Homo sapiens: one gene and its partners. The protein of the gene in region 3 purifies or fractionates together with the protein of the main gene of each other region. This does not show direct contact. Each region holds a gene or a part of one and is shown on either strand. Other genes may lie near its edges. The genes, in order: UTRN, CTNNAL1 and SNTG2.

Region 1 (8,602 bases), on a different chromosome or scaffold from region 3:
GAGTGCTAAGAACAACACAGGGAACGTAAATACAGAGATGCAGTCAAGAGTGACTGGGAGAGCTACTTTCTAAAGTCAGCAAGGAAGATCTCTGAAGAGGTGACATTAGGCCTACATCTAAATGACAAGAAGGAACCAGCCAGGCAAAGATGGAAGAAGAGAGATGTGCAAAGGCCCTGAGGAAGACACACTGGGCCTTTGGAGAAATAGAAAGAAGTCCAGTGCCACAAATCACTTCAGTATGGCTCACATTTATCATCTGCAAAATGGCGGTTGTGAGGATTAAACTGTTAGCACCACATCTGCACACAGAATGTGTTCAATTAGTGTAAGTTGCTAGAATCGTCATCATCAGCAGCAGCAGTGAGATGCCATCATTGGAGGTGTGCAAACAGAGACTGGGTGAGCACATCACAGGAATGGCTGGGTTATAGGGCGTTTAAGGTTCCCTCAACAATTAGATCCTAAGATTAGACAAGAAGAGAAAATGCAAAGGAAGAAATGATAAAATTGTTACACACAGGCTTCCAGCCCAAGGTCGCTTGAAGAACACATTGAATTATCCAAAAATGTGAAGCTTGCCCAACTATTTCATTCATCAAACAGTTCTTTCCCAGCTGAGAGTCTATAATCCCAAACTGTCAAGAACTCCACATGGAGCCAGCTGACACACTGTCCTTAGCCCTGAGGTCTACTCTTTCTACAGGGCTCTGGGATAAAACCACAACAACACTGACAGCAACAGAAAAGGATGACTTATTCTGTGTTACTAGCTTTAATGTATGTTAATTATTGAATGAAATAGCAGTGAGGATATTCTTCGATTGTATATGCATCCCAAACCATTTTATTATTTCATGTTTAAAATGTTCCAAGCAGTACTTTCTGCATCACACACTCTACTGGCAATAAATTTCACTTTTTAAAAATTCTTAGTCTTGGCCTATTGTTTCAAAATATTTACTAACTTGTTGAACTTTCTAAAGCCTACTAATTAAGGCTGTTAATAATACAGTACTTGATGATGAACTTGGCATATGTGCTTTTAAGTTAGAGAAAGACAGGTCTACTTTTACCCAACACCAAATCCTTGGTCATTATAGATCAAATTCTTTCCAGTTCCTTTCTAACACTCACCCAAACCCAAGGCAAGTATACTACAACCATAAATAAATACATGGCTTTGTATTTATGAAACTACTTCATTACGTACCCTTGACAACTTCCTATTTCTGTTTAGATGGTAGAAATGGCTTTAAAATTATAAAATTTAAAAAATTATAATATTCAAAATGGCATGAAACAAAGTAATACTAAGTGAGGACAATAAAAATAATCACAATAACTTAACATAAAATGCATAGACATTTTTATTATGCCAATTTAATTATGCCAGCCTTTTGGATTGTCCAAACTCGAGGATTTGGAGAGCAGAAACCACACTCTCCGTCCCCCCACTTTCATCCAATTTCCCCCCAAAAAAGAAACCTGGAAGAGCAGATGAGGATCAAAATTTTCCTAAAGGAAAGTATTCCCTTTTAAAAAATGGAAAAGCAACCAATTTGGCATACAGCATGTAGACAGAGGATCTTTAAAATACATATATGATATGTAGACAATTCCTATGACTTAATCTAAACTAAAAATCTCTTAAAATATGTAAGTTTTAGAGTACCATGAAATATTACCTCTGTATAGTAAGCATTTGCCTTAAAAGAATCAAAAAAAGTCCCTTAGAGGAAGCCAGATTGGGACTAATGGGTCCATTCAAATCCAAATTTATCTACTGGCTTTTGCAACATAATTCAGCCAAAAGAATGTGATTCATATCTGAGCTATGTAACAACTAAATTTTCAGTGTGTTTTGAAGTAGATGCCACCACAAAAAAAGTAATAGTCATAACCTTGGCATCTAAACACTCTAAGCAATTTGATAATCTTTAAAAATATAAGAACTCAGTAATGTGGGTTCATTGAAGAACTTTAGAAAATATAAATCAGCAAAAAAAAAAGTAATAATCTCAAATGCCAAGATGACCACTATTAACATTTATTGTATACTTCACTAAATTTTTAAAAAACATTTTTCATATAAATGACTTCATATAATACATACTTGTTTACTTACTATATCAAGAACACATTTCTATATTCATACACACACACACACACACACACATCACACACATCTGTATCACTTTTTATGAATGCTTAATCTTCTACTTTATGGATATACCCTAATTTAGTTACCTCTACTGAGATCATGTATGATCTGTTCAGATGTGCTAGAGTAAAGAAACAGAATAATAGGTTTAAACAACTATTTCCTAAAGCTATTTGACCATAACATCCTTTTGTGAATTACACATTAACAATCCTAGAACTTTTGATCTTTTCGAAATACTTTGGGAAATAATGATCTAACCAATTCCTAATATTAGATTTTCATGGTGTTTACAATGTTTTCTATTATAAATGATACTGTGATCAATTTCTTGAGTGTACCTTTTTATGTATTGCCTAGGGAAAAACTCTAGAAACAGAATTACTCAGTTAATTGATATGCATGTGTTAAAAACATGTTATCATTTTTGCCAAATTGTTCTCCAGCAATATTTTAGGTTCATCAGCCTTTTTAAAAGATAATTTTAAATTAAAATAGTTTGGGAGTTTATATGTTCATTATATATACACGGTATTTCTGAAATTAGATAATTACTCTTTTATGGACACGGCTAAAGTACAAGTTATAAATATCAAAGGTCTTACTAGAATGAAGGCTGACTCAGAAAACTATTTAGGAATATACCTCCTCACAATTTATAGAAAATGACTAGTATGGAGACATTAAATCGTCTCTCTTCCATTTTCCTCTGTTATATTTACATATGTCTGAATATGTATTCCGTACTCCTAAGATGATATTAATAATCCCTTACATTTTTGTAGTACCTTATACCACTAAAACATTTAAAACAAAAAGAATTTTACAGGAAGAGAACATCCTCAAAGCATATTTTAAAACAAGATATTAAGCTATACCTTCAAAAGACCCGTCAAGCTACACAATAGTTGCTACATATTTACAGCCAAATCTGTAATAACTAAAATCTTTATCAATCAACCAACACCGGTATCATGGAGGAAAATGTGTATTTTAAGACAGTTAATTTAGATCTTATTTTCACTGTGTATTTCTACAGTTTCACATAATAAGAAACAAGCTCCTAACAGAACATAAAGATGGTTCACACAGCAAAAACAGGCTTTGGGTTCCTTTTTTGTCTTTAAAGTGACACTGGATGTAATTTTATACCTCAAAGTAACTTTTCAAAGTTACTTAAGTATAGTGTTCACACTCAGGGTGGAGTTCTGTGTAATTTTCAAGGCTGAGAAGTGTTCTGCCTGTTCAAAAATATCTCCCCTTTGAGTTTGTCTCAGAATCATATTTGAAGCTTTTTAAAAATACAGAAATTTTTATTCAATGGGTCTGGAATGGAGCCAATGCATCTGCGTTTTTTAAAACTCCCCAGTTGATTCATCTGTACAGCCAGAGTCAAAAAGCACTCGGTTATATAAAAAGATTGGAGGAGGGGGTGGTATCCTGAGGACCCCAATTTAACTGTTCGTGTGAAAACCATGAATCTGTCTGAGTCTGGTTTATTAGATTACCTAGGTGAAAATTTTACCTTGAGAAGGCTCATAAGATATTTCAAGGTAGGACACCTGTTGGCCTATCAATGGCTATGAACAGGGATGGGGGTGAGGATATATGGTAATGAAATCAAACTGTGAAAGATCTTTCCTGCCAGAAACTGTGGCACTTCCTACATTAAGCATATAATCCCTTCAATTTCCAGAAAATAGAAAGAGAAATGTTCGGTCGTATTTTATTTTAATGGAGTAGTCTTCCAAATGAACAACCTTTAGCTACAAGCAGCAGTTTCACTAAGCACAAAATTGGGTTGAGAAAGGATAGGACACTCAGAGATATTATACCTTTTACATATACCTTTTACAAAATTATAGTCATTTGTCAGAATTCAGTTTCTTAAAAGAACTTCACCTCCAAGAAGTTCTTGCAAGAACAATGCAAATCAATCCAAGAAACATAGGTTTTCTAAATACATAAAAATCCATAGCTTTCTTGAGCTTCCTTTACCTACCAGATCTGGACTTAATGATATCACTGAATTCGTTCTGCCCATTGTCAGGACTGGCTTCATGTTCTCCATACTTGGCCATCTTGCCAGAGTTTCAAGATAATCCAAAAACTTTACCAAGTCCTCTTTCTAAGGCTTTCAACTTCCTACGATGGTTCAGCTTGACATCAATACCTAAAAGGAAAAGGGAAAGTACTGACTTGAAAAAATGTATTTATATATTTTATATAGTTATTCGTAGTAACTATTCATTCACCAAATATTTATTGAGTGCCTACCACGTGTAAAGCACCAAGCCAGGCAATGGTGTTATGACTATGAACAAGAGACATAGCCTCTGCCATTACGGCGCTTATGCACACTAAGCAATTAATTACATAATGAATTATTTCATTACAATACTGACAGACTACAAATCATACAAAGGAGAAGCACAGAGTATTAAGAGCACACAGCAGAGGAGTCTGACCTGCCCTGGGCAATTAGAGAAGGCTTTCTTGAAGAGACATTTGAGCCAAGCCTTTAAAGATGACAAGAATTTAATTAGCCAAAAAGGGAAACAGAAAGAGAAAAGGTAAGAGCTTCCTATGTGAAGTGGCAGAAAGAATCATGGAGCAGTCAAAGAATGGAGCACAAGCCAGTGTTTCTGGAAAGAAGACAGCCAAGAGACAAGTGTACCTGTTGAACCAGGTGAAGAAGCTGGGCAGGACCAGGGATAGGACCATGGAGAACAGGTCAAGGGTTTGTGTCTTTATCTGAAGAGCAATGGGGAGCCAGTAGATGGTTCGAAGGAGGGAACCAACATGGTCAAATTGGCCTTTTTAAAAGATCGTCAAGGGACGGGCACGGTGGCTCATGCCTGTAATCCCAGCACTTTGGGAGGCCGAGGCAGGTGGATCACGAGGTCAGGAGTTCGAGACCAGCCTGGCCAGCACAGTGAAACCCTGTCTCTACTAAAAATACAAAAAAAAAAAAAAAATTAGCCAGGCATGGTGGTGTGCACCTGTAATCCCAGCTACTCAGGAGGCTAATGCAGGAGAATTGCTTGAACCTGGGAGGTGGAAGTTGCAGTGAGCTGAGATCACGCCACTGCACTCCACCCTGGGCAACGAGAGTGAGACTCCATCTCAAAAAAAAAAAAAAAAAAAAAAAAAAAAAGACGATTGTGGCTTGTAGGTAGACCACAGTAATATGTGGGGAACCAGTGAAGACTATGGCAGAATATAGCAAAATGCAAATTAAGGAACCTAGCTCATGGGTATATGAATGCTGAATGAAAATTTCTTGCAACTCTTCTGTATGTCTGAGAATTTTTTCATAGTAATATGTTGGGGAAAAATTCCTAATCTTAACCAAGTGATCAAAATTCACATAACCAATCATGGGGCATCATGCAATTGAATGGAAAATCACCACATCATCTACACAATATCCTTGCCAAGATGTTGAACGTGAATCTTCTCATGAGCAGACAAATCTAGACTGTGGCTAGTTTTCAAAAGAAATGGCCTGGTTTCTTCAAAACTGTCAGCGTCTTGAAAACCAAAATTACCTGGGAGAGGGGGAGCTTTGTGAATTAAAGGAGACTAAATAGACATGACAATGAAATGTAATCTTTGATTGAATTCAGAATTTTAAAATAAAACATTTGAGGATCATTTGAAAAATCTGAATTTGGACTATGTATTAGACAATATTATTGTATCAATGTTAAATTTCTTTAACATTAATTATGGTATTGTTGCAGGAGAATGTCTTTGATTGTAAGAGACATGTGGTGAAATATTTAGCAATGAAGTGTGATGGTATCTTCAACTTAAGTTCAAACAGAATAGCATATATCTGTCTATACTGATATAGGTATATTTAGGTTGATATATGTATGTAGATGTATATATGCATACACACAGACAGACAGAAAAATGCAGTAAGTATTGTAAAATAAGTGGGAAAACTAGGCCGGGCAAGGTGGCTCACGCCTGTAATCCCAGCACTTTGGGAAGCCAAGGCAGGTGCATCACCTGAGTTCAGGAGTTCGAGACCAGCCTGGCCAACATGGTGAAACCCCATCTCTACTTAAAAAAAAATACAAAAATTAGCTGGGTGTGGTGGCAGGTGCCTGTAATCCCAGCTACTTGGGAGGCTGAGGCAGGAGAATCACTTGAATCCAGGAGGCGGTGGTTACAGTGAGCCGAAATTGTGCTATTACTCTCCAGCCTGGGTGACAAGGGCAAAATTCCATCTCAAAAAAAATAAAGTAAGTGGGAAAACTTGTTAAAGGGCATCTGGGTCTAGGCGAGGTGGCTCACACCTGTAATCCCAGTACTTTGGGAAGCTTAAGCGAGAGGATTACTTGAGCCCAGAAGTTTGAGATCAGCCTAGGCAACATGGTGAGACCTTGTCTCTACTCCATGTAAATAAAAATTTTAAATAATAAAATAAAATAAAATAAAAAGGACATCTGGGTGTTTATTGTGCTATTCTTTCTATTGTAATATTATATGCAGGAAACAAGTGTGGTCTAAACAAGAGTAGATAGAAAGAAATGGGTGAATATGTGGGATATTTAGATATCAAAGAAAGTCAATAGGATTTGGGAATTGATTGGATATGAGAGATTCATATCCAATGTGCAAAATGTGCAAAATGACTCCCCAATTTTGGCTTAGGCAATTAGGTGAAGTGTGAGTCATTGAGCTGGGCAACACTGAGGATAGCAGGCTGGGAGAAAGGAATCATCAATGTGATTTGGATTTGCAGAGCTTGAAATGCCTCTGAGTTATATAAGCGGAGATGACAAAAAGAGAGTTGGGCCCAGCATGGTGGCTCATGCCTGTAATCCCAGCTCTTTGGGAGGCTGAGGCAGGCAGATCACTTGAGGTCCAGAGTTCAAGACCAACCTGGCTAACACTTGAGGTCAAGAGTTTGAGACCAGCCTGGCCAACATGGCGAAACCCTGTCTCTACTAAAAATATAAAAATTAGCCAGGCATGGTGGCAAACACCTGTAATCCCAGCTACTCAGGAGGCTGAGGCAGGGGAATTGATTGAACTCAGGAGGTAAAGGTTGCAGTGGGCCAAGATCGCTGCCACTGCACTCCAGCCTTGACGACCGAGTGGGTGAGACTCCATCTCAAAAAAAAAAAAAAAAAAAAGAGAGAGAGAGAGAGTTGGATATAAAGGATTGGATCATCAATCTGACAGATTTTATGAGAGTCTAAAAAACTTTTTTCATTTTTTATAGGCTCTACTACTGCTAAAAATTTATGGATTATTATATGATTACATTCTTTCATTCAAGTACATAACTATAAAGGATTTGCTAAATTCTTAAGTGTATTTTATTATATTCAAGAATCAAAAACTTTGTTCAGAAGAATGTCTATAAAAGTTTATCATGGAAAATTAAGTTTGCCCAGGGAAAAATTCTCTTTCCTGGAAAGAACTACAGTGTATCACTTTGGAGCAGTAAGTCTAATGCTTTTCTTCACTATTGGTCTTAGCCAAGATCTCCACTTCTATGCTACCCAAAGCCTTTATTCACCCATAAAAGAGAAAAGTCAACTGTTTACACACTACTTTATTCCATTTGCCCATTATCAGTAACACTTCTTCACTATAATGTTTCACTTGCCACTCTCCTCAAGGTGATTTTTCAAATTTTTCTCTTCTTGATAATGAAAATCCCTTACAGGTTGCAAAGATACAGCAGAAAAGGTGATCAGAGTACAGAGGAAAATGGGGAGAAAGAAGAATAACAGAAGGCTATTTAAATAGTGATAGCCACTGAGGTTACTTGCCATTAATGGCCAGAGGAATTTGAGTACACTTAAGGCAAAGGATGACTCCTTCTAATTGCCAAATGCAGAATCTTTGGTTCTCAGGAGACAGAATCAAAGTTTCACCACGAACAATGCATCCCAGTGTGACCCTCCGTCTTCCACACCTATAAAATGGAGGGAACACCATCTTCACAGAAGGCTAGGTGAGAAACTGAGAATCAATGAATGAGATGTTGCTTTAGAAGCTTCAAGCCCTATACAAATGCAATTTATTGTTACCTCTGCCCTAGATTTCCCTTCCCTCAAATGATATTCTGTAAAAGCCAGATGTTCTTACTGAAACCAATCCAGTCAAGTCGATATTCACTAACTCTCCCTTCAGAACGCTTCCGGCTGTCATATGGACCACCAAGCAAGAGTGTATGAAATAAACATAAGGTGTTTAAAAAATAAACATAAGGTGACAGCCTTAAAGACAAAACTAATGTTTCAATTTTTTAAGATTTTAGGAATTATACAATGAATATATGTATATAATTTTTATTTTGTACTATATTTTATGTATATAGCACATATATATCCAACAGTGTGCATTATGATGGAAATGCTGTGTAATGCAAACACTATTCATTAATTTACTATAGGAACCAAAACCTAG
Region 2 (8,602 bases), on a different chromosome or scaffold from region 3:
CCTTTCGGAGGCCAAGGCAGAAACACTGCTTGAGCCCAGGAGTTCAAGACCAGCCTGAGCTTATAATAGTGAGACCCTATCTCTACAAAAAATTAGCCAGACATGGTGGCATGCACCTGTGGCCCAGCTACATGGGAGGATGAGGCAGGAGGATCACTTGAGACCAGAAGGTCAAGGCTGCAGTGAGCCATGTTCACACCATTGTCTGGGCAAGAAAGTGAGACCCCATCTCAAAAATAAGAAAATTTTTTTAAAATTCTAATTTCATTGTCTTGAGCCCTTGACCGTCTTCAAGAATATAAAGGAATTAAGCCTGGGTGCAGTGGCTCACTTTGGGAGGCCAGGGCAGGTGGATCGTTTGAGGTCAGGAGTTTGAGACCAGCCTGGCCAACATGGTGAAACCCCATCTCTACTAAAAATACAAAAATTAGCTGGGCGTGGTGGCGTGCATCTGTAATCCCAGCTACTCGGGAGGCTGAGGCATGAGAATCGCTTGAACCCCTGAGGTAGAGGTGGCAGTGAGCCAAGATCACGCCACTGCACTCCAGCTTGGGCAACAGAGTGAGACTCTATCTCAAAAAAATAAATAAATAAAAATAAAAGAATTAAGAAAGCACAGCTAAGGGAAATGAGAGGTCTGTGTGAGGAGGGTCTGTCTGGAGAGCTGCTGGGTGCCCACTGTGACTCCCTCCTCCAGGCATGCCTCAAAGCGCAGGGAGCAACAGGATAAAGGGGTTGAGGGGCAGGGGTGGGGGTAGGGGGGGCAACAGGAAAGCCTCTGAAGAACCACTAAGGTATCCATGAGAGTGAGAGTCCACTGTAAATGTCTACCAAGCCCAAAGCCATTTGATAAGGGTGCTGGTCACTAAAAACCTTCTGCCTCTCAACTTTCTCTCTTCTCTCTCTATGCCACAACCTGACAAAAATCAACAACAGCTACGTAACGGAGGGTGAGGAAAGTGAAAAAGGGAGAAGAGACCACATCTTCCCAGCTCTATCTAGTTGGAGCTGGGAAAACAGGGAACAGGGGAGAAGCTCTACAACTAAATGAAGATTTAAATAATGATTAACATTCTAATTTTCAACTGAGATTATGTTTTGTGACTTAAAGCAGGAATTGGTAAACTTTTTCTGTGAAGGGCCAGAGAGTAAATATTTTAGGCCCTATTGTGACTATCCAACTCTGCTGTTGTAGTGAGAAAACAGTAGACAGTAGGTCCACAGATGGGCAGCATTGTGTCCCCATACACTCTACTGACGAAAACGGTCCAGTTGTAGTTTGTGAACACCTGACTTAAAGTGACCATAGGACTTTCAATAACCTGAGAGTGGCCAACTAAGTCATGAGATGACCAATTTTTTATTCAGGGAACAGGGAAACCCTCTCAACCAAAGGAATATCTTTTAAAATTTATTTCAGTGAGATAGAATTGATATAAAACAAAATGTACCCATTTTAAAGATACTGTTCAGTGAGTTTTGATGAACATATACAGCCATGTAATCACAACAACTAATTTTGAACATTTCCATCATGCCAAAAAGTCCTCCCATGCCCTTTTGCAGTAAATATACCCCAACCTCTGACCCAAGATAGCCACTGATCTGATTTATGTCATTATAAATTAGTTTTGCCTTTTCTAGAATTGTTTTTTTCTAAATGGAATTTTATACATATAATCATTTGTGCCTGGCTTCTTTTGCTTAGTATGTCTTAGTGATTCATCCATATTGTTGCATGTATCAATACTGTTCTCTTTTATTACTGAATAGTATTTGGTAGAATTATTCCAAAATTCATTTATCAATTCCTCTGTTGATGGAATTCTAGGTTATTAGTTTTTTATTATTATGAATAAAGTGATGAAAATTCATGTGCAAGCTTTGAGAATGATGGCATTAATAAAATCATGGCTTCAAAATAACTATGTCAAAGGAAAACTTTTTTTTTTTTCTTTTTTTGAGACACAGTCTCACTCTGGCACCCAGGCTGAAGTGCAGTAGCGCGATCATGGCTCACTGCAGCCTTGAGCCCTGGGGATCAGGTGATTCTCCCACTTCAGCCTCCCGAGTAGCTGGGACTACAGGTGCTAACCACCACACCTGGCTAATCTTTTGTGTTTTTTGTAGAGATGGGGTTTTGCCATGTTGCCCAGGCTAATCTCAAACTCCTAGGCTCAAGTGATCCTCCCACCTTGGCCTCCCCACAGTGCTGGAATTACGGGCATGAGCCACCATGCCTGGCCTCAAAGGAAAACTTTTAAAACCATTTTCTAGGCACAGAGACATACTAATAATACTAATGTATTTCATACACCCATACAACATGAAAATCACAAAGAATTAGAAGAGGCTAAATTTCAAACTATACTTACTTCTTTCTTAAGTTCATTAAGACTGTGACTGATTTTCAAAATACTGAGTTCCAGTTCTTCAGCGATGCTTTTTGTTTTCTTGCTTTGCTAAAAATTTTAAAAAGTATACATGTAATGTTACCGCATCTCTTTAATCTGTTAATTACAATTTTGTTTGGACTGTAAATTGTAATAAATTTTAATACTATTCTGTGAACTATAAAAGTAGATTTTCAAAATTTACCTGTTTAAGTTACAGTGGAAAATAAAATTTCAGTTTAGTTATATTTTTCAATGCTAACTACAAATAGATGAACTTCTGTTTTTTTATTTATTTATTTTTCTGTGAACCTATGGATTATATTGAAAGGTGAACTTTTAAAATCTAATTTTCTTTAATAAACTCAAGTCTAAAATTAATCTCTTTTATTTTCTGCCTAGAATGTCCATGCTTTCACTCCTAACCTAGTTAAAAATTAAAATCCTACTCATCTTTAAGATCTTACATAAATGTCTTTTTCTCAGAAAGGCTTTCTCAGATCACTCAATCTAAATCAGACCCTCTTCTTACTCACTGTAATCTTTTTGCTCCATAATCGTCCCAGTTTGCAATTACATATTTATTTTTTCAGTCCAAACCATCTGGAATTTTTTATTTTTTGTTTGTTTAAAGTCTATCTTCCCCACTAGGCCACGAAAGCTGGGTTCACATCTATTTTGCACACCACTAAATCCACAGTACCTGGCATAGCAAATGGTAGGTCGTAGATATTCAATTCTTTGCATGATAAATAAAAATTAAATATCACTACTTCATGAAGACTTCTTGAGCCCCCTCCCTAAATATAAATTTGTCCTCCTTCAAACCCTCTCAATGCATAGTCTACACTTTCTCTTAGGATACTTACAAAGCTATTTGTACTTGTCTCACCCCTTCCCGCAAATTTCTATATTGTAAAATTCTTGCAGACAAAGATTTTAGCTTATTCATCTTTAGATTTATGGTGCTTGGCATATAAAAGGCACCAGTAACAACTGCTGAAAAAAATGAATGAATGAAAAATACACCTAGAATGCAGGATCAGAGATCTGAGTGCTTGTGAAATATGCACGGGTAAATTTGCTAAATTTGTGACATTTGCTAATTGCAAATTTGAGTATTGATAGAATCACATTCCCAACAGAGTATTTCATCACAAGCAACTCTTTATAGTGAGTGTTGGACTTAAAACTGAACACTGAAGCAATCTACACTTCAGATTGTGTATCACACAGATAATTCAAACTAAACACAAAACATTGCTCAAGTCTCTCACACGACTATACTCTAGGGCAAGATTCCCTGTTAATAAGAACATGTGCACTACTGTGATGCCAAGAAAACATCAGAGAAATCTGTGATTCATATCTACTTTCATTCATAAATTAATCTACTTACAAGGAAATCAACTGCTCCTTCTTTCTTCAGTCTCAGCCATATCCACCCTCCTTCATCATCTTTACTGCCAAAGCTTTGTTCATGACTTCCAGATTTGTACTATCACTGCTGTATATTGTAAGCCATGTTAAATACTTTTCTGACAGAGCCTGGGCCTAAGAAATAAATAATGCTAGAGACATGTCCCAGGGCTCTCTGTCTCTCCACTTTGCAATCCACCTGCTATAAGAGATTGTGTACACACACTTCCTGTCTGTCCCACTTCTGTCAGTCTTGGCCATTCTTGCCCAAATAAGCTCCTCTGTTTGAAGCACACCAACAGCCCATTTAAGGCTCACAGAGTGGCCACCCACCAATTTTAGACCAGGAATTTGTGCAAGGGTGAAAAGCTTTTACTTGCCAGCTGGATCTACCCTTGTTTTCATTGAATCTACACCCCAATAAGTTTTCTAAATCATTGTCTCTGTAAATCAGCTGTCCTCAGAGGTAAGAATTGTGTACATGTGAATGGCTCCAGCAGTCAGGCTCAGGTCCCAAGAACCTCTAGGAGGGGGTCTACTCCTCTGTTCTTCACTCTGAAGAAGTATTTTGGGGAGGAATTTTCCAGAGGTGAGTTTGGTGGAAGAGTAGGGACAACAGTGTGAACTAGTGATAGTGACAGAGGCATATAATTGAGACTGGCTAGAATGAGAGTCAACAGGCCTGGAAATAAATGTCAAGTATTGTAAGTGCTAGATGGGAAGGATATTTTGGCCAACTAGGAGGGAAAGAAGGGATGAGATATCCTGTCCCATTCTGGAACAAATTCATACTCCTGGTGATTATGTAACTTCCATATCTTGCAAAACTTTATGGGAAAGCCATTATATAAGATTTACTTTGATTTTAAAAAAAGTTCTTACAGCTTGAATCCACACAGAAATTAACTGCTGCAGTTCCATTCTCGCCTGAGTTGACAGTTCCAAGATGCGTTCTCTGTGCTCATGGCTGGTGTAGGCAGAATCAGTAAAGTCCTCCATACGCTCCAAGATGACTTCCAATGTCACAGAAAGGTTCTCTTTGGACTGAAAATAAAGATTCTCCCGAAGAGCTTCAATATTCATCTGAGAACAAAAAGGACATCTATCCATCCATGTGAGTCAATATTCCCACCTGACCAAAATGGGCTGTAATTTCTAACAGTGCCCAGGAAAACACTAGCATTTCCTTTTCCCAAGCTGAGGGGAAATACAGCCACCAATGATATCTATATTCGCCACTAACCCAGAAGGATACATTGCTCAAAAGCCTTCAATATCCATGCAAAGCACCATTCCTAGAGTAATTAATACAATGACATTGCTATGAGATCAGTGAATACTAAGGCAGAAAGAGCATCATCCTCTAGCAACTGGCAGGAAAAATGAACCAGCCTCCAGGTAAAAGATTTGCATCTGAGAAAATGCCTAGGCAAAGTCCTGGAAGATAAGTTACACCCAAATATGAAATGTGCTGAGCCCAGGGGGAAGGATGGTGTGGAAGATGTGGGGTGTGAGAAGCACTGGGGAAGACATCCATTTTTCCTTTGTTAATTCAGCAAAGACTCTCCTAGTCACCTAACTGGTCTCCCTACATTTTGTTTAAAGTCCCCAACAGCACCTTACTGACCCAAACATCCTCTACCAGAGGGTCTGTATAATCTAAAATGTAAACCATCTGATACTGCCACCTCCCTCTAATAGTTCCTCGCCATCTATAGAGAATCAAGCCCAAACGTCTATGTAGTATAGCACAAAATCCTCTATGGCCTGTCTTTATATACTTCTCTAACAGTCTATCTCACCCCCTGAACCCCCTAACAACCTTTCACTTCAGCCATCCTGTTTGGAGTTCCTTGACTATGTGATGAACACATGCTCATGTGTGCAGTCTTTCTCTCTCAGCTTTCTACGATGCATCATGCCATTTCAACCCTGTAAAACACTACAGTCCATGAAATATGTCACACAGACAACTTGGGCCAAGAGGCAACAAGCGGTAATGATCATGATTATGGTCACAATGAATGTGATAATAAGGATACCTTACATTTGTTTAACACTTCAAAGTCCTTTCACAAATGTTATTTTAATTAATCCTTATGTGTGACCCATTTTAACATCATCCATGAAAATATCAAAGTTTGGGAAAGTCAAGATGCCATAGGAGAGTCCTTGCTTCCCCTCCTGCTCTTGGCCCAAGTTGTGTCAGGTGATCACTCCATCCTAGGTAGACAGAAACTTGTATTTAAGCTAGGAAAGAATACAGATAATAGTAAGGTATGGAATTTACAATGGGGATCTTCTCAGAGAATTAAATTTATTTTATTAATTTAAGAGAATTAAATTTGAGAATTTAAACAGAATTAAAACATAAAAATCAGTTATATTGGTCTCATACCATTTATGTTAAGGTTTTTTATTTTCCCTTTAGAGAGAAAATATACATGTTTTTAGACAGCAACTTAGTGGAGTTTTGTGGGGTTTTTTTAAAGAGGCTATTTACTGATATGGTTTCATAACATTTGTCCATATATTCATGGTACCAAATACAGCAAAGTACCCAGTTTCCCTCCATAGATTATACTCTCCATCAGAAAAAAAGCAAGATGCCAAAGAGATAATCATGGACAGTGAGACTGAGCCTATTTATAACAGCTCTGCCTCCAGCATGCCTGATGGCGAGAGGGCAGCAGCCAGAGCTGTCGGCAGCAGCCACAGGCAGAGCACTGCCCCTCCTTCACCTGCACTAGAAATGCAGCAGCAGGTGGTGAAAGATGTCTCTCACTTGACTTACTTGTTTCCCTAATTATCCTTTGACAACACATCTCCTCCTTCAGCATTTATAAAAAGGGAAGATTAGAAAAATAATCTCTAAGATCTCTTTCAGCAATAAAATTTCTAAGAGAAGGTTTGGTCTGTACAGTTTCTTTCCCCTCAGGAAGACTCAGTGGTAGGACTGGCATCATATAAACAAACCCAGAGGTGTAAAGTGAAAGGTCATGGACTTTGGGATTAGAGAATCCTGGGCCTAAAGAAGGGTTCTACCACTTACTAGCTCTCCTCCTCAAAAAAAAAAGACAAAAAACAAAAAAAAAAAAAACAGTATATAATTATATCCACCTAAAGGGCAGGTAGGGATTAAATAAAATATTTATTAAGAGCAAAAAGAGATATTCTTTCCATTACTGTCTTTTCACCCCATGTTCCTACTTAGACCTTCACACAATTAGAAATCAAAGTCCAGGGCCAGGCGTGGTGGTTCACGCCTGTAATCCCAGCACTTTGGGAGGCCAAGGTGGGCGGATCACCTGAGGTCCGGAGTTCGAGACCAGCCTGGCCAACATGGCAAAACCCCATCTCTATTAAAAGTACAAAAATTAGCCGGCTGTGGTGGTGGGTGCCTGTAATCCAAGCTACTCAGGAGGCTGAGGCAGGACAATTGCTTGAACCCAGGAGGTGGAGGTTGCAGTGAGCCAAGATCGTGCCACCACACTCCAGCCCGAGAAACAAGAGTGAGACTCCATCTCAAAAATAAATAAATAAAATAAATCAAAGTGCAGTAAAATGGAAAGAATGCCATTCTCATCATAGCCCTGTCTGTTAGAGAGGTGGGAACCTTTAGCATTTGGATAACTTCTCAGGGCCTTAGTTTTCTGATCTGTTAAAGGAGGGCATTGTACTAGATGACTTCTTAGGGCCCTCCCAACTCAGACACTGCTCTTACCCAGAAAGCATCTTCACCATGTCTATGACTTCTGATGAGAAGTCAGACTTCCTGGAGTCACACTGCCTAGTTTCAAATCCCAACTCTGGTACTTAGTAGCCAGCAAGTTAATATCCTTTCTGTTTCTCAAGCTCCTCAACAGTGTAATGGAAATAATAGCAATAGTTCTTTGAGGATTATATAAGTTCATATATTTAAAGCACTCAGAAAAGGGCTGGCACAGAATAAGGACTCAATAACTGTTAGTGTGTATTACTGTTGATTTTTAAATTTTAATTATTACTAATACTATTACTATAGTCTCAAAGTACCAACCCTCTAACACAGAGAAAAGCAGGAATTCTAGCAGAAATGATTTGCTGCTCACCATCATCCTATGGATGGTACTGCTCAAAAAGATATGGCACTGCTCAAAAAACAGGAAGGGAACATTCTTTTGAACAGGAGGCTACAGCTAAACCATACAGCTAAACAGAGCCAGAGTAGCTACTATAACCAAAGACCAGTGTTCTTTGTAAATACACCTTTAATGTAAATATTACTGAGCAACAAGTTTGTACAGAGTGGCATTGCTTTAAATAGATACATTTGCTTTTGTGAAGCACTGTTCTAAAACATTACACAAAAATATGGATACTATACATAATGATGCTCCTTTAAAATGGAAAGAAAAGACTGAGTGCAGTGGCTCATGCCTGTGATCCCAGCACTTTGGGAGGCCCAGGCGGGTAGATCACCTGAAGTCAGGAGTTTGAGACCAGCCTGGCCAACATGGTGAAACCCCGTCTCTACCAAAAATATAAAAATTAGCCAGGCATGGTAGCACATGCCTGTAGTACCAGCTACTTGGGAGGATGAAGCACAAGAATCGCTTGAACCCAGGAGGTGGAGGTTGCAGTGAGCCGAGATCACACCACTGCACTCCAGCCTGGGCAACAGAGCGAGACTCCATCTCAAAAAATTAAAATAAAATAAAATAAAATAAGAAGAGAAAAATAAAAATATACTCTCTTTATTCTTACCTTGAATTCCTTAATTCCAGTAAAAATACTGATAGATGAAATGT
Region 3 (8,602 bases):
CCTGGTGGATTGATTCTGTTTTCATTATAAAATATTTTTCTTTGTCTCTTGTAACAATTTCTATTTTGTCTAAGTACAGCCACCCTGCCCTTTTGTTTGCATGAGATATTTTATTCCATCTCTTCACTTTTGGCCTATGTGTGTCTTGAAATCTAAAGTGAGTCTCTTGTACACAACATATAGTTAGGTCTCAATGTTTTTGTTGTTGTCTATTTCACCACTCTAATTTCTGTGGATAGAGAAGCTGAGACTCAAAAATAATATTATTTATCAGCACATATGATGGCTTTTTACATGCTGGGAAAGATGACTGCTTTTACACAACATCAATATCCTTAAATTGCGAATTTCTATTTAGGTTCTAGTCCACCAATAAACCCACTGCCATTTTTGGTTATGTGCTTCCATAAACTAATCTTTATTTTATTTCTTTGCATGTTTTTTCTCTTTCATTAGAATGCTGCCTTTCTGTAGTAATATTGAGAAACATTTTACTTTGTCCATATCTTCTTTCCATTTAACAATATTACCAAAAACAAGCAAACAAAGAAACTAAAGCTCAATTTATTCAACCAAAAATGGTTATTTATCTTCATTTCTTTACATTTAAGGGCACTGAACAAATTCTATCCCATTTTTCCCATAGGAAAAAAAAAAGTACATTAAATGATTGAAAGAAGTTATCTGTATTCATTTTCTATCGATGCTTAACAAATTAACACAAATATAGTAGATTAGAGACACACATTTATCCTCTTACAGTTCTCTAAGAACTTGTCTCTTAGGGCTAAAATCAAGGTGTTGGCTGCTTTCTCCTGCAGCCTCTGGGGGACAGTCTGTTTTCTTGGCTTTCCCAGCATCTGGAGGCTTTGCCCTTGTGCTCTGAGCTCACCTGTGCCAGAAAGCTCCAGCCACCGCAGCTTTGGAAGCATGCCTCCCTCTCTGCCCTCAGAGTGGAGGATCTTGTATGAAGCCTGGATCACCAGCCCAGCCTGTTCAGGAGAGCTCTCTCTGGGGTGTGTTCCTTCCAGCAGCACAGCTTAGAAGGAAGGTATAGGGTGGAAGTTCAAAAGGATCAAGATATTTTTATTTCCAGAAGGTTATTGGACTCTTTGTGCACTGGCACCTGCCACAACAAGTGAGGGGAAGCTCCTTGCCTTTTCTATTTCCCTTATATTTGTGTGACTAAAAGAGGCTACTCTAGTGTTTTTAATTTCCTTTTCTTAAAAACACAAACAAACAAAAAAAAAGTCTGTCCCTAGGGGATTTTCTTTCCTTCTCACTCAGACAGAAGCAGCAAACATACGGTGTCTGATTTCACCCCCCTACATCCAGCATCATACACAGATGAGCAAACCCTTCACTCAGGAAGGGGATGAGTGATTTTTCTTTCAATATTTGTAGAGATGGAGTCTCTAAATAAGAGAGCAGTGTCTGCTTGGCCTACCATTGGAGCCTGATTCTGCATAACGATTCCAGTCACCTGCGTGTCCCAGTGGTTTTTTGTCTTACTTAAGAGAGTTCTTTTGGAGATCCCACCCACAGGCTCTGACCTTATGGAATATTCAAAGCTGATGCAGTCCCCAGCGCTGTCTCTTCCATTCCACTAGCATCCATCAACTCAGTCAGCTCAGACACAGCCCTGAGCAGTAAACTGCGTCCTTGGGGCCTTTGGTCCAAGCCTCAGTGCTTTTTCTAGCTTTGCCTTCTGTGCTTCAGCCACTGGATTCAGATTCCATTGTCCCATCTGTGGGGGCCAACGTGAAGCTTTAAATAAACATGTAAACATCTTTTATTTGTTACAGCCTGTGACATTATGATTACATCATTCTCCACCAACAATAAGAAAATTTACATTACAATGATTTGTCCCATTGAGTGTGTAGCACGAAATTCTCATGGAATTTAATAAATGGTCATCAAGTTGACCCATTTAAAAAAAAAAACTCACAGAATTTTGAAAACCACAGCATGGCAAATCATTATTGGAGACAGACAGTGCAATTAACACAGTGAGGTGGCTGAGAAGTTCCACAATAGCAAAAGTATCCCGCCTTCTTCAATCTACTTTTCTCCAAATCTATGCAAACAAAGAGTGTTTAAAAAATATAACTTTTTAATATCAAACACATTTTGGGAAATGCTGCTGTGTTGATACCATCACATTTCAGTAAAACTTCCATGAAAGTCACCGACGCTGAGCATTTCAGTAGAACTTCCACGAAGGTCACCGATGCTGAGCATTTCAGTAGAACTTCCATGAAAGTCACCGACGCTGAGCATTTCAGTAGAACTTCTGTGAAGGTCACCGATGCTGAGCATTTCAGTAGAACTTCCATGAAGGTCACCGATGCTGAGCATTTCAGTAGAACTTCCATGAAGGTCACCGATGCTGAGCATTTCAGTAGAACTTCCATGAAAGTCACGGATGCTGAGCATTTCAGTAGAACTTCCATGAAAGTCACCAACGCTGAGCATTTCAGTAGAACTTCCATGAAGGTCACCAACGCTGAGCATTTCAGTAGAACTTCCATGAAGGTCACCAACGCTGAGCATTTCAGTAGAACTTCCATGAAAGTCACTGATGCTGAGCATTTCAGTAGAACTTCCATGAAAGTCATTGATGCTGAGCATTTCAGTAGAACTTCCATGAGAGTCACTGAGGCTGAGCATTTCAGTAGAACTTCCATGAAAGTCACTGATGCTGAGCATTTCAGTAGAACTTCCACGAAGGTCACCGACCCTGAGCATTTCAGTAGAACTTCCATGAGATACACCGATGCTGAGCATTTCAGTAGAACTTCCACGAAGGTCACCAACACTGAGTGTTTCAGTAGAACTTCCGTGAAAGTCACCGACGCTAAGCATTTCAATAGAACTTCCATGAAGGTCACCGACACTGAGCATTTCAGTAGAACTTCCGTGAAAGTCACCGACGCTGAGCATTTCAATAGAACTTCTGTGAAGGTCACCAACGCTGAGCATTTCAGTAGAACTTCCACAAAGGTCACTAACGCTGAGCATTTCAGTAGAACTTCCATGAAGGTCACCGATGCTGAGCATTTCAGTAGAACTTCCACGAAGGTCACCGACGCTGAGCATTTCAGTAGAACTTCCGTGAAAGTCACCAATGCTGAGCATTTCAATAGAACTTCCATGAAGGTCACCGACACTGAGCATTTCAGTAGAGCTTCCATGAAGGTCACCGACACTGAGCATTTCAGTAGAACTTCCATGAAAGTCACCAACGCTGAGCATTTCAGTAGAACTTCCGTGAAGGTCACCGACGCTGAGCATTTCAGTAGAACTTCCGTGAAAGTCACCGACGCTGAGCATTTCAATAGAACTTCCACGAAGGTCACCGACGCTGAGCATTTCAATAGAACTTCCGTGAAAGTCACCGATGCTGAGCATTTCAGTAGAACTTCCATGGAAGTTACCAATGCTGAGCATTTCAGTAGAACTTCCATGAAAGTCACCAACGCTGAGCATTTCAGTAGAACTTCCACGAAGGTCACCGATGCTGAGCATTTCAGTAGAACTTCCACGAAAATGACTGACACTGAGCATTTCAGTAGAATTTCCATGGAAGTCACCAACGCTGAGCATTTCAGTAGAACTTCCATGAAAGTCACCGATGCTGAGCATTTCCATAGAACTTCCATGAAAGTGACCGGCGCTGAGATGGAATGACTCCTGTGAAACCCTCACAAAATGGACCCCCCCCATGAAAGAGGAACCATGAATATTTACCTGATAACAAGAAGTACCACAAAAGACCCTGGCAACACCACAAGCTGCACAAAGACCACTGCAACCTTGTGCAAAGACAAGTCTTCTATGAGGACACAAGCTCCCCTTGCTATTGATCCTTGTAGCCAAGGATAACGGTTTCAAAACAACTTCTGTAACCTCCTCACTTTGCCTTTAAGCTTTCCTGAATCCCAGCCTCTTTGGATATCCCTATAATCTCTTATAGCACATATGTCCCAGCTTGCAATTGCCTACATAGTCCCAAATAAACTTTGGGAGAGCCTCTCTCTGTCATTGTATTAGGCTGACACTCCCTAACCCAACATATTGGACTGTTCATTCCACACTGTTTCCTGCACAGAGAGCCAGCAGGTGCCCTTTCCTCTGCAGGTGGAAACACATCAGCCCATGACCGACATGTGAACACAGGTGAGGAGTGCAGCGAGGGATCCATACAGGGTGTCCCCAGCTTAGAACTCAACACAAGTATTTTGTTCAAACAAAATGTCAAAATGTGATTTCAATCAGCTCTAGTTAAAAATTCATAATTCAAGATAGCCTTGCTGGTAATACTTGGTTAGAAAATTAACCAGACCAGAGATATCATGACTCAGCTTTTGGCTGAATTGAAGATGTTCAGTGAAATGCCCACAGGATGCTTGTTTATTCAGTATCTGGATCATGACATAATGGATTGAGTATTGTTTCATAAGCTTTAATTTCATTCCTGGCTTTCAGTACTACTCATTGAGTTTTAGTGTGGAATTTAGTGGTGTGACCGATTTCACTGCTAGCTAGTAATTTCTTTTATTTTCTTTTTTTTTGAGACAGAGTTTCACTCTTGTTGCCCAGGCTGGAGTGCAATGGCACAATCTCGGCTCACTGCAACTTCCGCCTCCCGGGTTCAAGTGATTCTTGTGCCTCAGCCTCCCAAGTAGCTGTGATTACAGGCACCTGCCACCATGCCCAGTTAATTTTTAGTATTTTTTTTTTTTTTTGGTAGGGACAGCATTTCACCATGTTGGCCAGGCTGGTGTCAAACTCCTAACTTCAGGTGATCCATCTACCTCGGCCTCCCAAAGTGCTGGGATTACAGGCGTGATCCACCATACCCAGCCATTGCTAGTACTTTCAAAGATTATGCAGTGTAACTTCAACTTATGGTACCAAAAACTATTGATGTTGTTTTGAATATGTGCATTATTACTGGTAGCTGTTTGGCTTCTTATTTCTGTGCATTGTGCTATTATTGGATACATCTTGGGAACTTGTAAAGCAATTTTCAGTTTCTATGTATAAAACCAAAACCCTGGCCGGGCGCGGTGGCTCACGCCTGTAATCCCAGCACTTTGGGAGGCCGGTGCTGGCAGATCACGAGGTCAGGAAATCGAGACCATCCTGGCTAACACATGAAACCCTGTCTCCACTAAAAATACAAAAAAAAATTAGCCAGGCATGGTGGTGGGCGCCTGTAGTCCCAGCTACTTGGGAGGCCGAGATGGGCGGATCACGAGGTCAGGAGGTTGAGACCATCCTGGCTAACATGGTGAAACACCATCTCTACTAAAAATACCAAAAAAAAAAAAAAAAAAAAAAATTAGCTGGGTGTGGTCACAGGCACCTATAGTCCCAGCTACTCAGGAGGCTGAGGCAGGAGAATGGCGTGAACCCAGGAGGCGGAGCTTGCAGTGAGTGGAGGTTGTGCCACTGCACTCCAGCCTGGGCGACAGAGTGAGATTCCGTCTCAAAAAAAATAAAATTAACCCAAAACCCTGAAGCATGAATGATATGGTCATTATGGCTCTTTTTCTCCAAAAGTCCCTTTAAAGCTCAGTAATTGCTATTTGGAAACACATACATACATTGAATTACAATATGTGCTAAGTTTGCAAGAACCTTGTGTTTCTTCTAGAAAGCTACTTGGTTTTTTTTTTTTCCTCTAACAGGGATAAGTCAAAATGAATAAAAGATTTTGAGTACAGTCTCACGCTTTGGGTATGATTGGCGAATCCAGCTTGAATTAAAGTTTAACACAAGGGCTGGGCAGGCCCTGGGTTCCACTCATGACCAGAGTGAGGGATGCTGGTTACCAAGTGTAATGACGCTTTATGAAACTACCTAAAGACTATGAAGCTTTGGCAGGAGAATACACCTCAACATCTTGAACATTTTGCTCATCACAATTTGAAATGATCAAAATAATTAGTGTTGTAGCTGTCAATGTTAAGAGTCATTCACATGCATAGGAAGGAACTTAATTCAAATTGGAATAAAGGAAAGATGAAGCCTTTGGTTGCAGTCACTAGGAGGTTGGGGGCAGCTCCCAGCATGTTGGTACCCAATGTCCCCCAGTGTTCTTTGTGTATCCCTGCATGGGGTGTTCCTCTGTGTTGAAGTCCTCTTCCGGCAGGCTGGCTCGCTGGCTCTCCACTTGGCATTAGTGGTATTAGAACAAGCTTCAGGTATTCACTTCTCACAGCTGGTCACACCAATGTAGGCATCTTGGCCTCCCTCTCCCTGTCATCTGTACCAAGCTGCCACTGGGCTCTGGCTGGTCCAGCTGGGTCCTGTACCTATTGCAAGAGAGAAGCAGTTTCTAAAAGAAAGGCATGCAGAGAGGACCAGGGAGAGGCCGAGGGGACTTCATGCTGTCAGGGAAGTTTGAAGTCATTTTTGAGATGTCACGTCTTTGAGTTATAAAGAAAAGCAGCTCCGAAAAGCTGAGATGGATGTTATTGGGGAGGGAGGGCTTTACCCGGTGATGTGTGACCTCCAATCCTGCCTGGGGCCCCATTCTCCACCCCCTCATTCTGCCATGGAATGAAAATGACCAAGATCCTGCCTTTCGAGAGCTTAAAGGAGCATGTCTGTGGAACTGACAGGCCTTAGCGTTGCTCTTCTTCTTGAAAATGATTTATCTTTCTTTCTGGTGTCATCTCAGCAGTTTAGAATATGCTAGAATTTTGGTGAGATTTAGAAAATAGGATGTCAATCAATTAGCAGTCACCTCAAAATAAATTTTATTTTCTTCATTTTATTGAATTTTGTTATGCAAACAAAGAAGAAAGACAACATTAGAAGAATGCACTTAGACCTTCTTTTCTACCAATAGAATGGGGGTGGCAGGACGGCAAGATTCGTATTTTACCATCAAAAACAGGAAGATGATTTTTCCCCAGTAACTGAATAACTTCTAAAAACAGTTTCTTTAACTTCTGTGTCAGCTTTGGGGTTCACTGTGGACTTTTCTGTTGATTTGACACAGGGACTTTATGTGGGGCAGTTTGTGGAGAGAAGATGAACCTTTTGTGGGTCATTTTTGCTTTTACAGGACATTTAGTGTCTGTAACATGCGGAGGTAAGGATCCAGGAGTTTGTTTCAGTTTTTTTATTGGGAGGGGGTAGGGGTATAACCGTCTCTCTAGGAAACTCTCCCTGGGGCACCCTTTCCTGCTCTCCCGTAGCCATGGGGACAGGGTGGGTGAACAAGGCCCCTCCTCGCTTCCCGCCGTGCTGTGCACACTGCCTATTCTGCGCCACACAGCAGGCGCTGTTCCTCCCAAGCGTGGCCTTGGCATGAAGCCCACACGCACCCACACAGCAGGCGCTGTTCCTCCCAAGCGTGGCCTTGGCATGAAGCCCACATGCACCCACACAGCAGGCACTGTTCCTCCCAAGGGCGGCCTTGGCATGAAGCCCACACGCACCCATACAAAAGGCACGGCGGCCTGAGACACAATGGCTAGTTCTGCCAACTCACACAGCACAGGGGTCTGCTGCGACGGGATCCACATCACAAAATCACCACAGGTGCTGGGCAGGTGGGGAAGACTGAGTCCTGGCCCAGATTACGGGGTCTGACTTAATCAAGACCCATCACTGAAGATGCAAAATAAAGGAAGTGAGCATTAGCCCCCGTTAGGTGCAAGAAAACAAGTAAGTTACATTCTCAGCGTTGTAATAAAAAATACCCAGTATATTCATGTTTATAACCAATTTGGATCATGATTTGGATCATGTTACTCTGCCTTTTACTTTAAACCATACATATTTCCTGTCTATTATTATTTTTTTGGAGGGACTTTCTTGGAGTTCACAAGGTCCAAACTTTGTTAAATATTTTTGTAACGTGTTCTTCCAACAATTATAATAAACACTTGATCTGATTTTCTCCTCCAGGAACTCGAGTTCCAGGACCTGAGGGCTGTCCTGCACTGCATCCACTCCTTCATAGCAGCCAAGGTGGCCTCCGTGGACCCCGGCTTCATGGACAGTCAGAGTCTTGCCAGAAAATACATGTACAGCAGCTAAAGGTTGTTTCTGTTGAGTGCTGAAAAATTAAATTATTTTCGTAAGAAATGATTCTTTCCTGCAGAATATTGCAACTTTGTGTTGTTTTATGATGAGCCTATAGTTGTGATACCAATAAAACATGTCACTAGTTTCCAAAGACGGGTCCTCCTTGTTAAATCTGACATGGGGGATGCCTGGTCCCCTCTTCCCATGAGTCTCCCCCCAACGAGGAGCCCCAGCGTCCCCCACACAAGTCTGTGGCTCAGACTCCAGTCCACCTGATGCAGTTCACGCCCCAGCCCGCATCCCAGCAGCATGAGAACCATGTGGGCATTGCACATGCCACTTCCCACGTTGGCAAAACCCAGATTTATTTTCATAAAATATGTCATCGAAAATTCTGAGCGAGTGCCACGTTTCTCCTCAGGAAGGAAAGGGTCTCCTTTGCAGTGGGCTGTCATTTCCTTTTTCCTCCAGTGGGGATCAGAGTGACAGGAGTATTTGAGAAACAGGGATTGGTCAAAATATGTAGGGCAAGGAAATCAACTTTACTTAA

What was found.
Region 1: the proteins of SNTG2 (region 3) and UTRN purify together in Homo sapiens (affinity purification with mass spectrometry; 2 studies listed by BioGRID and IntAct, with this or other methods). This does not show direct contact.
Region 2: the proteins of SNTG2 (region 3) and CTNNAL1 purify together in Homo sapiens (affinity purification with mass spectrometry; 2 studies listed by BioGRID and IntAct, with this or other methods). This does not show direct contact.

Annotation. Positions count from the first base shown.
Region 1 is NC_000006.12:144,287,472-144,296,073, reverse strand, and holds part of UTRN (utrophin), read right to left. Parts: exon of another isoform or gene 8,120-8,602; intron 4,338-8,119; 5' UTR 4,246-4,337; coding exon 4,167-4,245; intron 1-4,166.
Region 2 is NC_000009.12:108,974,587-108,983,188, forward strand, and holds part of CTNNAL1 (alpha-catulin), read right to left. Parts: coding exon 8,559-8,602; intron 4,896-8,558; coding exon 4,695-4,895; intron 2,463-4,694; coding exon 2,376-2,462; intron 1-2,375. UniProt on the Homo sapiens protein: May modulate the Rho pathway signaling by providing a scaffold for the Lbc Rho guanine nucleotide exchange factor (ARHGEF1).
Region 3 is NC_000002.12:1,359,411-1,368,012, forward strand, and holds the end of SNTG2 (gamma-2-syntrophin), read left to right. Parts: intron 1-7,932; coding exon 7,933-8,064; 3' UTR 8,065-8,203; downstream 8,204-8,602. UniProt on the Homo sapiens protein: Adapter protein that binds to and probably organizes the subcellular localization of a variety of proteins. May link various receptors to the actin cytoskeleton and the dystrophin glycoprotein complex.